Linked DNA regions of Homo sapiens: region 1 is linked to region 2. Evidence: fine-mapped expression QTL. Tissue or cell type: nucleus accumbens. Region 2 holds a variant in brackets; the other region holds the start of a gene. All regions are shown on one strand. Distances are from middle to middle.

Region 1 (5,383 bases), 31 kb after region 2:
AATTTTATAAACAGCACACCATCATCAAACCATCTTGGGGGTCAACTTTTTCCACTTGTGCCTTTAGCTCTTACGCAAGTACTTTTATAGTGTCTTCTAATATACAGGATTTATCTTCGGTTCTGAGAAGAGCTTTTAAACTTAATCCCTCACTGGAGTACTAATTTGTTTCTTCATCCTTAAACCAGTACTTTCGGTTAACTTTCATCAGAAACGGTAGATTTCTTTAGTATGGCCACTCGAGAAACATAGGTTTGTGTTAATTTTTTGTTTTGTTTTGTGGCTGTTTTTGTTTGTGACTGCTGGGAGAACAACAGGGTGGGGGAGATTTTGATGATGGTCGCTGATATTATTCTTGTATTTCTGTTTCTTAAAGTTCAAAGTACATAACTGGAAATACCTGTGGACGGTTGCCTTAAAAATATTTCTAATCATATTCGCCTAAAGAAAATAAAAACTACTACCTATTTTTAAAAAAAGGAATGCCAGAACTTATTTTTGCTTTTTTATTCTGGCTTTTCCCATGATATTTGAGTGGAATAATATGCTATGATGTTTATGTATGAAAAACAGAATACACTTGCATATGTTATGAGGAAGAAAGCTGCTTCTAGGAAAACGAACTTTTTTTTTCTTTTTTTATGTTTTAGGAAATGATTTATCAAAGTAACAAAATAACTCATTGGGAAAGCAGTGTTATTTATAAAAACAATCAGCCTTTGACTTCCTTTCATTTTTATAAGGCTAATGTAACAAGGATGTTGCAGAGGCAAAAATGAACTCGAATCCTTTTAACCATATGAACACTTATGAATTTTATTGCAGCTCCTATGTAACCACTTTATTTAACCAACTAAATAAAGCATGTACTTTTTAAAAATATTTAATGTTCAGCACCAAAAACTGTATCCAAAGAAAATGTACATTTCCTGTGTAATATCTGCCTTGCCTCGTTAATTCGTTAGAAAAAAATATATACAAACATATCCAGGGAAATGCTTTGGGTTTTTTCTAAAGTCATAGATGTTTGTGTAGAAAGGAATGGAACCATCTTCACACGTGAATTGAAAGCGGAGATCTTCAGTGCTGGAGTTCAGAAAATGAAGAGAACTTACAAAAATGTACAGCTGGGAATGCCATTCCAGTGGATCTTCCCCACCACGAAGTTATTACTGTGTGAACAATGTTCATTAGCTTTACCAATATTGTACTTCTGTTTATCTGCCATTACCATCTTCACAAAGTAAATCACTCCTGTTCTTCCCAGATCGCATCTCTTCCCCCACCCTCTGAAAACCAACATTTGTTACCCATAAGCAGGGGGGGACGCTTAGTGATAAGTATAATAGCTTAAATTGAATTTTCCTTCGAATGATTTAGTGAATACTAGAACACATTTTTACTTTGTTGTTTAGACTCAAGAAGGCATAAAATCTCCGCCATCTATTTATCATGTAGTTATTTTAATGTAAACATGTGTCCGTTTAGATGAAGTGTTTTCATTATTAAGCTAATTCCAACGTGTCTCAGATAGACCATGAGAAGGGAGCCGAGCTCTGGCTGATGGGGAACCGAAACCTGCCTCCGCTCAGCCTGCTGTCAGATATGTCTTCATTAGTTTTTTGTCATTCACCGGTGGCAAATGCTGTATAAATGGAATGATGATCAGGCCCGCCTTGATAACTTGTCTTATCTCATTAGTTTTCACATCAAAGTTAATCAGCAATGTGAATTGTAATTGCTAGAGGAGACAATGCGTAGATCGCTGGTTGCTTTTTTCCCCCTCCCCTGTATGGCATCTTGAAACATCAGCAGGCTGGCTGGAGCAGATAGGCTCGGAAGGAAAATGATGTGGAAGGCATAATAAGCGAGCTGCTCAGAATTAATGAGCTAACCCAGTAAGAAAAGAATGGCCAATCAATGTGAGTTGGGCAAATATAATTTAGAAATAATTGCTTGATTGGTTGCCTATAGTAGACTGATTTGACCACATACAAGGATTAAGAATTAAGATGTCAAGGCAAAAAATAATTTGGCAACTGAGGGCATGTAATTTTTTGTGTCCTTCCCTTTATGATTGAAAGAGATGGGTGTTTGAGATGCTATTCGCCAGAATGAAAACATTAGACACCCTCTCGTTCTCTTTCTGCTCCTCTCACAATGCAGGCCCATTCAGAACACAATTGTGATACTCCTGGACAGGACGTGAAAAAGGTATGGATTGAGAGAGAGAGAGAGAGAGAGAGCGTGTGTGTGTATGTGTGTGTGTTCCCATTTATTGCAGTTATGCCCAAAGGATGAATGGGTTGGTACATAAGGTGTTTGCATCTGCGCTGAGCTGCAACATCATTGGGAGGCATGGCAAAGTGAGAGATGTGGATATTTGCAAAATACGTCAATTGTCTGTCCTCGGCCGAAGAGTTCTGCTCACATCCTACATGTTCCTAATGCAATTTTCCCCACAGCTATTCACCAATTAGTAGAGGGCCCTTGCTATATTCTTCTGTCTAAACTATTGGGAAGGTTCAGCCAGAAGGTAAATTTGCTTTGATCTACATTACACCTAATTGAGTCACCAGCAATGTCTCTATCCCAACATCAAGAAATGTGAAAATGTTAGATTATTTCACTGGGGATTAAACCTAATTTTCGTGTGTTCTGCATTAACCTATTAGGCTGGCTAATCTGCATTGCTAATGTGACTGAGGCAGCTGTCACAGCTAAAGAAAAACATGATCATGCAATCCTTGAATGAATGATTCCCAGCCTGATTAGTCTTAGTGAAGTTAGCTGAGCCCTGGTGATAAGGAAGGAAAATTCCCAGGTTGCCAATAGCTTTGAAAATTATCAGACTGTAGGCAAAAATATACCTCATGATTCACAGGCTTCGGTCCAAATACCGAGTTGAGTGACATTATTTAAGACTGACTAAGGCTAACTCGAATTGTCGCTCGCATAAATGTTTGTGTTTATTTTAAGGGACTAACGTAATGGATGCAGATTTAAATGCTAATAGACGCCAGCCAGACACATAAAACCCCAGGCATTGTTACCCTGTTGGTCTTTTATTAACATAGATTAAATTGTAATATTTTCTAGATAAATTGGCAAAATCAGAAAGATGCATTGCCCCCCAGAATGCTCGATGAGGACGACTTTTGCAGGACTTCTGGTTTTTCGGGAGATGAGGATCACAGTAGTGGAAGTTTACACGTTCACTACTCTCATTATCAGTTTAAAAAAAAAGAAGAAGAAGAAAAATAGGGGAAAAATGTGTTTATAAGGAGGAAAATAGATTTCTGCAGCTCGCTGGCCAGAACCACTTTCTCTGTCTGTCCACTTAATTGGGAGGACTCGGCACGCATTTCTCCTCATCCCTGTATTTTGTTCGCTTGGAGAAGGCTTCGCTGCAGTTTCAAGACTTTGCGTGCTCCTCTCCATTTGATTTCAACAGCAAGAGAGCCACCATGATGGGTACCCTTCAGATGTGGAAAGTGTTCAAGGGAGTTTGGTGGCTGCAAATAGAGCTGGGAGTCCATTTAATCCGATTAGCAGTTCCGCAAAATGGGCCTCGACCCATTGTGGACAGAAGCCTTTACTTTATTTGTTTCCATTAGCCAAGAATCAGTTATCAGAAAAGTGGAATTTTGCCCCATCAGATTGCCCAGACAATCAACAGAAAATAAATGAGGAAATAGTCTAATGTGTCAATATTTGTCTTTTGGCCCTAATTGTCCACAGAGGGGACTTGCTGAGTGTGTGAAGTTGGCAGCCTGGGTTTATCTGTGTACTCTTGATGGTTTTTCCCACTGTGTAGGCACCGGAGCCGCTACGTGCACAGTAATGACATCTCAAAGGCCAACAGCACTGGCTGGAGAATAAAGGCGTTTTAAAGGTCTAAGAACACTGGATTGAAGAGCCAAGGAGAACCCTTGATGGATGAGGAGGAAGGCAGAGCCCAGCAAATGACAAGGCATTTGTGACCAGGTTTCCAATGCCGGAGTGAGGTAGAACAAAAGTACTGAAGAGACAGGAGCTTCCGTTCCTGCCCCGGTGCCAGCTTGTCTTTCCCGTTTCCCAGGAAGCTCAGCTGACTACAAGCCTACGGGGGTACGGCCCTCCTCTTATTTCTGTTGCCTCTTGTTAGTTGAGAAATGTTAGTGTCTCAAATTGTTTTAGTCCCTCAAATTGCCTTTAAGGATAATGGTAATAAAATGATTTAAGCTACAATATTTGAGTATTCACTATTTACCAGATACTATTCTAGGCACCGAATATTTGATTTCCCCCCAAGCCCCATGAGATGCTGCTATCATTAGGCCCATTTTACAGATGAGTCACTGAGGCCCTGAAAATAATTTGCCCATATTCACTCCACCAGTGGCCATAGAGCCATGCCTTGAACCTAGGCAGTCTCACAGGCTTTTCATTACCACTGGACCCCAGATTCCAGGGCCAGGCCTAGAGAGCCAGTGTCTCTTCAAATTTTACACCCTAAGTACCCACCAGAATCCCCTTCCCAGACACCTTCCTTCCTTCCTTTCTACTGATCTCTCCTTCGCCCCCTTGAAAAGCTCAAGACATGGCTGGGCATGGTGGCTCACGCCTATAATCCCTGCACTTTGGGAGGCTGGGGCGGGTGGATCGCCTGAGGTCAGGAGATGGAGATCAGCCTGGCCAACATGGTGAAACCCCATCTCTACTAAAAATACAAAAATTAGCCGGGCTTGGTGGCGGGCGCCTGTAATCCCAGCTAGTAGGGAGGCTGAGACAGGAGAATTGCTTGAACCTGGGAGGAGGAGGTTGCAGTGAGCCGAGGCTGCACCATTGCACTCCAGCCTGGGCAACAAGAGCAAAATTCCATCTCAAAAAAAAAAAAAAAAAAAAAGAAAAGAACAGCTCAAGCCACAACAATGGCAGAAATGGTGCACAAGCCCATCTCACACAGTCCCCCTGACTGAATGTTTTCAATAACAAAATCCCACTCAGTTTTCACAGAATCTTTTCACTGAAGGTGGGACAGAAATTTTGATTATCCAGGCCTCCTTTAGGCCTCTCAGACCACAGTGACACTTGAGCCCCAAGTCAGCAGAGATCGCTGCCAAAGAGTCACGCTTTAGCAACTTATCTGGACTGTGGACAATGGCCGTGAACTGACCCTTTTCCCCTTGTTCAGCTGAAAGGTGCCCTCCCCTCTGGTTCCCTGAGATGAGCCGTGGCTCCTGATTCATTCCGAGAAGACAGCAATTGGATCTAATCATGGAGCACAACACACGCTGGATGGGCCATCAGCGCAGAGCCATAATCTCTGCCTGGAGTGAGTTCTTCCATAACTCCAGCCCATTGCACAAAATTGACGGGCTCTTTTCTTTTTGGCTGGATC
Region 2 (5,383 bases):
CCCTCTGATTTTTCATGGAAGGGGGGTTTACTCTTAAATACATAATGGATAAAAATGAAGATGGAGAGTGGATGGAGATTGGATGGAGAAGTAGGCAGAGGAAATAGTCTTACATCCCCGGATCAGGAAAGAATAAGGGCCCAGAAAAGTGGAAGGAAGCTATAGCACTGGGGGACTCAGAGGACCCCAAACTCTCTCCCACTATGAAGTTTCCTTGACTACTCAAAAACGACATTTCTTCCTAGTCTGATGACCCCACTCACCCCGTGACTAAAGACCGTGGACAGCCACGATTTTGGGGCTGACTGCTCATGTCCAGCACCCCCTTCCCTTTGTTCGTGAAGCTCACGTGGAAGCAGAGCCTTACAATGACCCCAGACGTCAGGGCTGGACCAACTGCCCGTATTAGATTTTTAGGGCAGCCAATAACTAAATACCACAGGGTAGCTTAAAACAACAGGAATGTATTCTCTCACATTTCTGGAGGCCAGAAGTCTAAAATCACAGAGGCAACAGGCCATGCTTCCCCCAAGATTCTGGGAGGATCCTTCCTGGCCCCTTCCTGGCTCTGGTGGCCGGCAGTCCCTGGTGTTGCTTGGTGTGTAGAGGCATCGCCACGATTTTTGCCTTGTTGTCCCATGACGGCCTTCTCTCTGCGGGTCTCAGTCCTCACATGGCATTCTCTTCTTCTTATAAGAACACCAGTTATGCTGGACTAGGGCCCACCCTAATGATCTCATCTTAACTCAGTTACCTCTGCAGAGACCCTATTCCTACTAAGGTCACATTCGCAGGTTCTGAGGGGTAGGACTTCAGCGTATCTTTTGTGGGGACACAATTCAACCCAGAATACCCTTTGTGTTGGGTCAAGTTCTCTAGAAGTAGAGCCTGAGGTGAGATTCTTGTTCAAGCAATGGATTAAAGATGTACCTTCCAGAGAAGGAGGGTGAGAGAATCAGGGGAGGGCAGGGGCAAAGGGAAGCAAGGATGTGGTCTCAGAGGAAGGTTAGCCTCAGCCTGGCTCCACAGGGTCTCTGAAGAATGAATTCTGCCATACAGTCAGTCCATTTTTAGGCCTGTGAGCCAGCTTCCTACACACTCATGTCACTCTGTCGTTGGCTAGGAGCCTCCATGGGTGTCATCTCCCAAGCACGGCGGTCCCATCTGCTGAGGACAGTTATCTGGAGAAAAGGAAGACATTCTCTGCTGTGAGAAGACAATTCTCACCGCAGCTGGGCATCTGTGTGGGGCATGGATGTCAGCCCCAGCACTTCCAGCAGCTGGTTTGCAGAGGGGGCCACAGACGTGCCTGCTGCCTTCCCGCCCCTCCCCCTCCACTGCCCATCGTCTCTTAAGTTTATACATTGAATGATTAAATGTTACTTTTGGATAAATCAGATTATTGCCAACTTCCCACTTAATAAATACAGAGCAGTAAGCAATATTTTACATTAAGCATTAAGTTTATACAGTTGATCCTTGAACAACGTGAACTTGAACTGCATCGGTCCACTTATATGCAGATTTTCTTCTGTTTCTGCCGCTCCTGAGACACCCCCCACTTCCTCATTTTCAGCTTATTCAATGTGAAGACATTGCACAAGGATGAAGATCTTAGTGATGATCCACTTCCACTTCATGAATAATAAATATATTTTCTCTTCCTTATGATTTTCTTTTCTTTTTAAGAAGTGCAGTGATGCAATTATGGCTCACTGTAGCCTCAAACTTCTGATCAAGGGATCCTCCAGCCTCAGCCTCCCAAAGTGCTGGGATTACACCTGCACCCATCGCCTTATGATTTTCTCTTTCTTTCTTTCTTTCTTTCTTTCTTTCTTTCTTTCTTTCTTTCTTTCTTTCTTTCTTTCCTTCCTTCTTTCTCTCTTTCTCTCTTTCTTTCTTTTTATTTCTTTCCTTCCTTCTTTTTCTTTCTTTCTTTTTTCTTTCTTTCTTTCCTTCCTTTCTTTCTCTTCCTTCCTTCCTTTCTTTCTCTTTCTTTCTTTCTCTTTCTCTCTTTCTTTCCTTCTTCTTTCTTTCTTTCCTTTTTTTTTGAGACAGGGTCTTGCACTGTTGCCCAGGCTGGAGTGCAACCTCAACCTCCTGGGTTCAAGCAATTCACCCACTTCAGCCTGCCAAGTAGCTGGGACCATAGGTATGAACCACCCCGCCCAGCTAATTATTGTATTTTTCATAGAGATCGGGTTTCTGTGTTGCCCAGGATGGTCTCGAAATCCTGGACTCAAGCAAACCACCCACCTTGGCCTCCCGAAGTGCTGGGATTACAAGT[C/G]CGAGCCAGTGGACCTGGCCCATGATTTTTTCTTCTGTCTAGCTTGCTTTAAGAGTATAGTGCATAATATCTATAACATATAAAATCTGTGTTAATGGACTATTTATGTTATCAGTATGGCTTCTCATGTGTATTAGGCCATTCCTATGTTGCTGTAAAGAAAGCCCCACTCTGTGGTTCTTTCTGGGCAATTCTGGGAGGAATTTAGTGTCCTCAGAGCTCCTGGTGGAACCCAGGCTCAGCTGCCTCCAGCATGAGCTCATATGCTGGTGTTTTTTCTTTCCCTTGCTTCCTTTCCCTGCTCCCTCACTCCTGCTTCCTGGGCCCACCTCCCAGATAAACCATCTGCATTCAAGTCCTTGTCTCTGGCTCAGCTTTCCCAGAAATCCCACCCAAGACAGCTGCCTAGAAGAACCTTTTACACCCAGTTTTTCTTGAAAAGCATGATTTACTCAAGATCAACCAGCCTATGGGCATTTTCTTGAGGAGTTTGATCGTGGCTGACGTTGACACTGGGCAAGTCAGCCATGATGGCCTAAAAGCATGGCCTTGGAAGTCCAATCTTTTTTGTGTGCCAGACCTAACCCCAAATTCCATTTTTTGTTTCAAGTGAGATAAATTTACATACAGTGAAATACATATTTTAAGTGAACAATTCAATGACTGTCAATAACCAAAATTCCTATCAAGATATAGAGCATTTTCCTTACCCCAGACAGTTCTTTCATGCTCCTTCCAGTCAAAGGTAACCATTGATCTAATCTCTATGACCTTATATTAGTTTTGTTTGTTCTTGAACTTGATATCAATGTTTTCACATTGCATGTATTCTTTAGTGTCTAGTTCCCTTTGCTCAACATGTTGTTTTTGAGATCTATCCATTTTATTGTATATATCAATCATTTGTTCCTTTCATTGCTGAGTAGTATCTCATATGAAAAAAAACACATTTTGAATATTCATTCCCCTCTTGATGGACATTTGGGTTGTTTCTACTTTGGAGCTATTAAGAATAAGGATACTATGAACATTCGTATACAAGTCTTTTTCTTGAAGAGCATATACATCTTTTCATTTCTATATATTTGGCTGAATGCCTAAGAGTGGAAGGCTGCTGGCACTTTTTTAATGTTTTAAAAATCTGCCAACTGTTTTTCAAAGTGGTTGTAGCATTTTATATTCCCACAAAAGTTATAGGAGAATTCCAGTTATTCAACTTTCTCATCCCTATTTGATGTTGTCACTCTCTTTTAATTATAGACATTCTCATCAAAGTGCCCAAATTGTTTCTTAAGTAGAATGTGATGATTTGGACTATTGTTTACTGACTTCCCTCCCATGGTGAAAAGCGTAGGCTTCCCCACCCCATTGATACTGGGTTTGACCATGAAACTTGGCTTGACCAGTGGAAGATTAATGGACAATATGGAAGCAAAGGCATGGAATATCCTTGTGCTGTGTCTTGCCCTGTTATGTTTCTGCCAGTGCCACAAGAACATATCCTGGCTAATCCACTGATCCAGTAAAGGAGGAAAGATGTGGGGAAGAGGTAGACCCAAATGGCTGCTCAGAGCCAAACACATTGGAGTCCAGCTACTTTGGACATTTTGGGAATATGTGATCCTTGTTTTAGGCCAATGGGTTGTGGGATGATTTGTTACACAGTATAACTGTGGCAGTGATTGATTGCCACCATAGAGCCAGGTGTCCTTGTCAAGCCTGTCAAACTGCCTGGAAGCATAACTGCCCCATTCCCAGCTGGACTACCTGCTGAAGTCTGCATTAACCAACATAGTGAATAGCTTCATTCTAACTACTCTGGGCAACCTTGAACTTCTTGCCACTCAATATTTATCAAAGGCTTGATTAAAAGAAACAATATTTACAAAGGACGGTCTGAAAGTTATGCCATCCAGCCATTGCCTGAGTCCTGTAAAATGTCTCGCTGCATTAATCTCAGGTGGCAGAGAGCTGGTGTCCTAGGACTGAATTGTTTTTGCTCTCTCAGAACAGCTTCTACCAGGTTGTGTTTTGGCATGACCCTATCAATGTATCACAGAGGAAATTATAGGGGAAACCTTCATGATGCTTGTGTTTGTATCTGCTGTAAGGACATTGTTGGGCATGCTCTGTGAAAAGGCAGGGGAGGGGGAGTGAGTTTTATTATGATTGATATTGTTGTAGTGTTAATTATTGACTATTCAAACAACCTCTTATCCACTATTCCTGTCTGCAATTTCCCATCACACTAAACTGCGCTGAATGCTTTTGCTTGCGTAATCTTTAAAATATAACTTTACTTATTGTACAACTATTATTGTACATATACAGATGCATACATACATATATATAGGAAAATATATAATATACAGACAAACATAGAGAGGGAAATAAAATTTATTTCTAAGACTTTCAATCAAAGATAAAGAGTCTGGATTTTGAATCTTGACTGTCCAGACTGGAATTCCACTTGCAGCATTTACCTTTAGCTAACTATTTAATCCATCTCTGCTGCTCAAATGGAATCTAACAAGATGTTCAAGCGGGTCTCAGCCCAAGACAATTGATGCTCCTTCCAAATAAGTTGCAAGTCCATGATATAGGTTTTATGAAAGAAGTGACTCGTGCTTGCTTTGTGACTTAATTGTTCACCCACAGAAATGGAATAAAAGGACTGGAGGCTACCGGAGAAGAAAGAAGATAATTTTTGGAAGAATTGATTCTGCTCTGAGTCCTGTACTCTCACAGAATAGAAAGGTTTAGATGTTCTGTTCATCTCAAGTCAAAGGAATAGTGCCTATAGAGAAGTTGAGGGCATGATGAGGTCTCCTGCAGTCATGAAGACACAGTGGACTGGTCTGACCCAAGCCTGACACCTTAAATGGAAAGAAACAAGCTAACTGTTCTGATGGCAAAAGGCAAAATGAAGTGGCTGCCCTGAGCAAACTTCACTCCCAGAGTCTCTGAGGACAAAGGATAAACAAGTGTTTCCTGTGTGTTATGCATGAAGGAGCATCTTCCTGGAGTCATCCCAGAAGCTGCCTGGGAGTCATCTGAAGAAGCAAAAAGATCACCTTTGAAAGGAGATGGAGATAC

Which allele goes with the higher level. Positions count from the first base shown, and alleles are read on the strand shown. Sizes are in standard deviations (SD) of each study's normalised expression.
With allele G in place of C in region 2, the expression in nucleus accumbens of the gene that starts at base 2,114 in region 1 is lower (moderate effect, 0.49 SD a copy in GTEx).

What was found. PIP is the estimated chance that this variant, and not a neighbour inherited with it, causes the effect.
Region 1: it holds the start of LINC03083, and the variant in region 2 is the best candidate, but not a certain one, in a credible set for the expression of LINC03083 in nucleus accumbens (GTEx, PIP 0.64).

What each region holds. Positions count from the first base shown.
Region 1 is chr20:20,968,335-20,973,717 of GRCh38, forward strand. LINC03083 (long intergenic non-protein coding RNA 3083) reads left to right here and starts at 2,114. Exons shown (of 2, transcript NR_186504.1): 1 at 2,114-2,214; 2 at 3,818-4,228.
Region 2 is chr20:20,937,642-20,943,024 of GRCh38, forward strand. No RefSeq gene overlaps it. Among named protein-coding and RNA genes, the nearest start is that of LINC03083, 30 kb to the right of the region's middle. The variant C/G (reference allele first, on the strand shown) is at 2,288.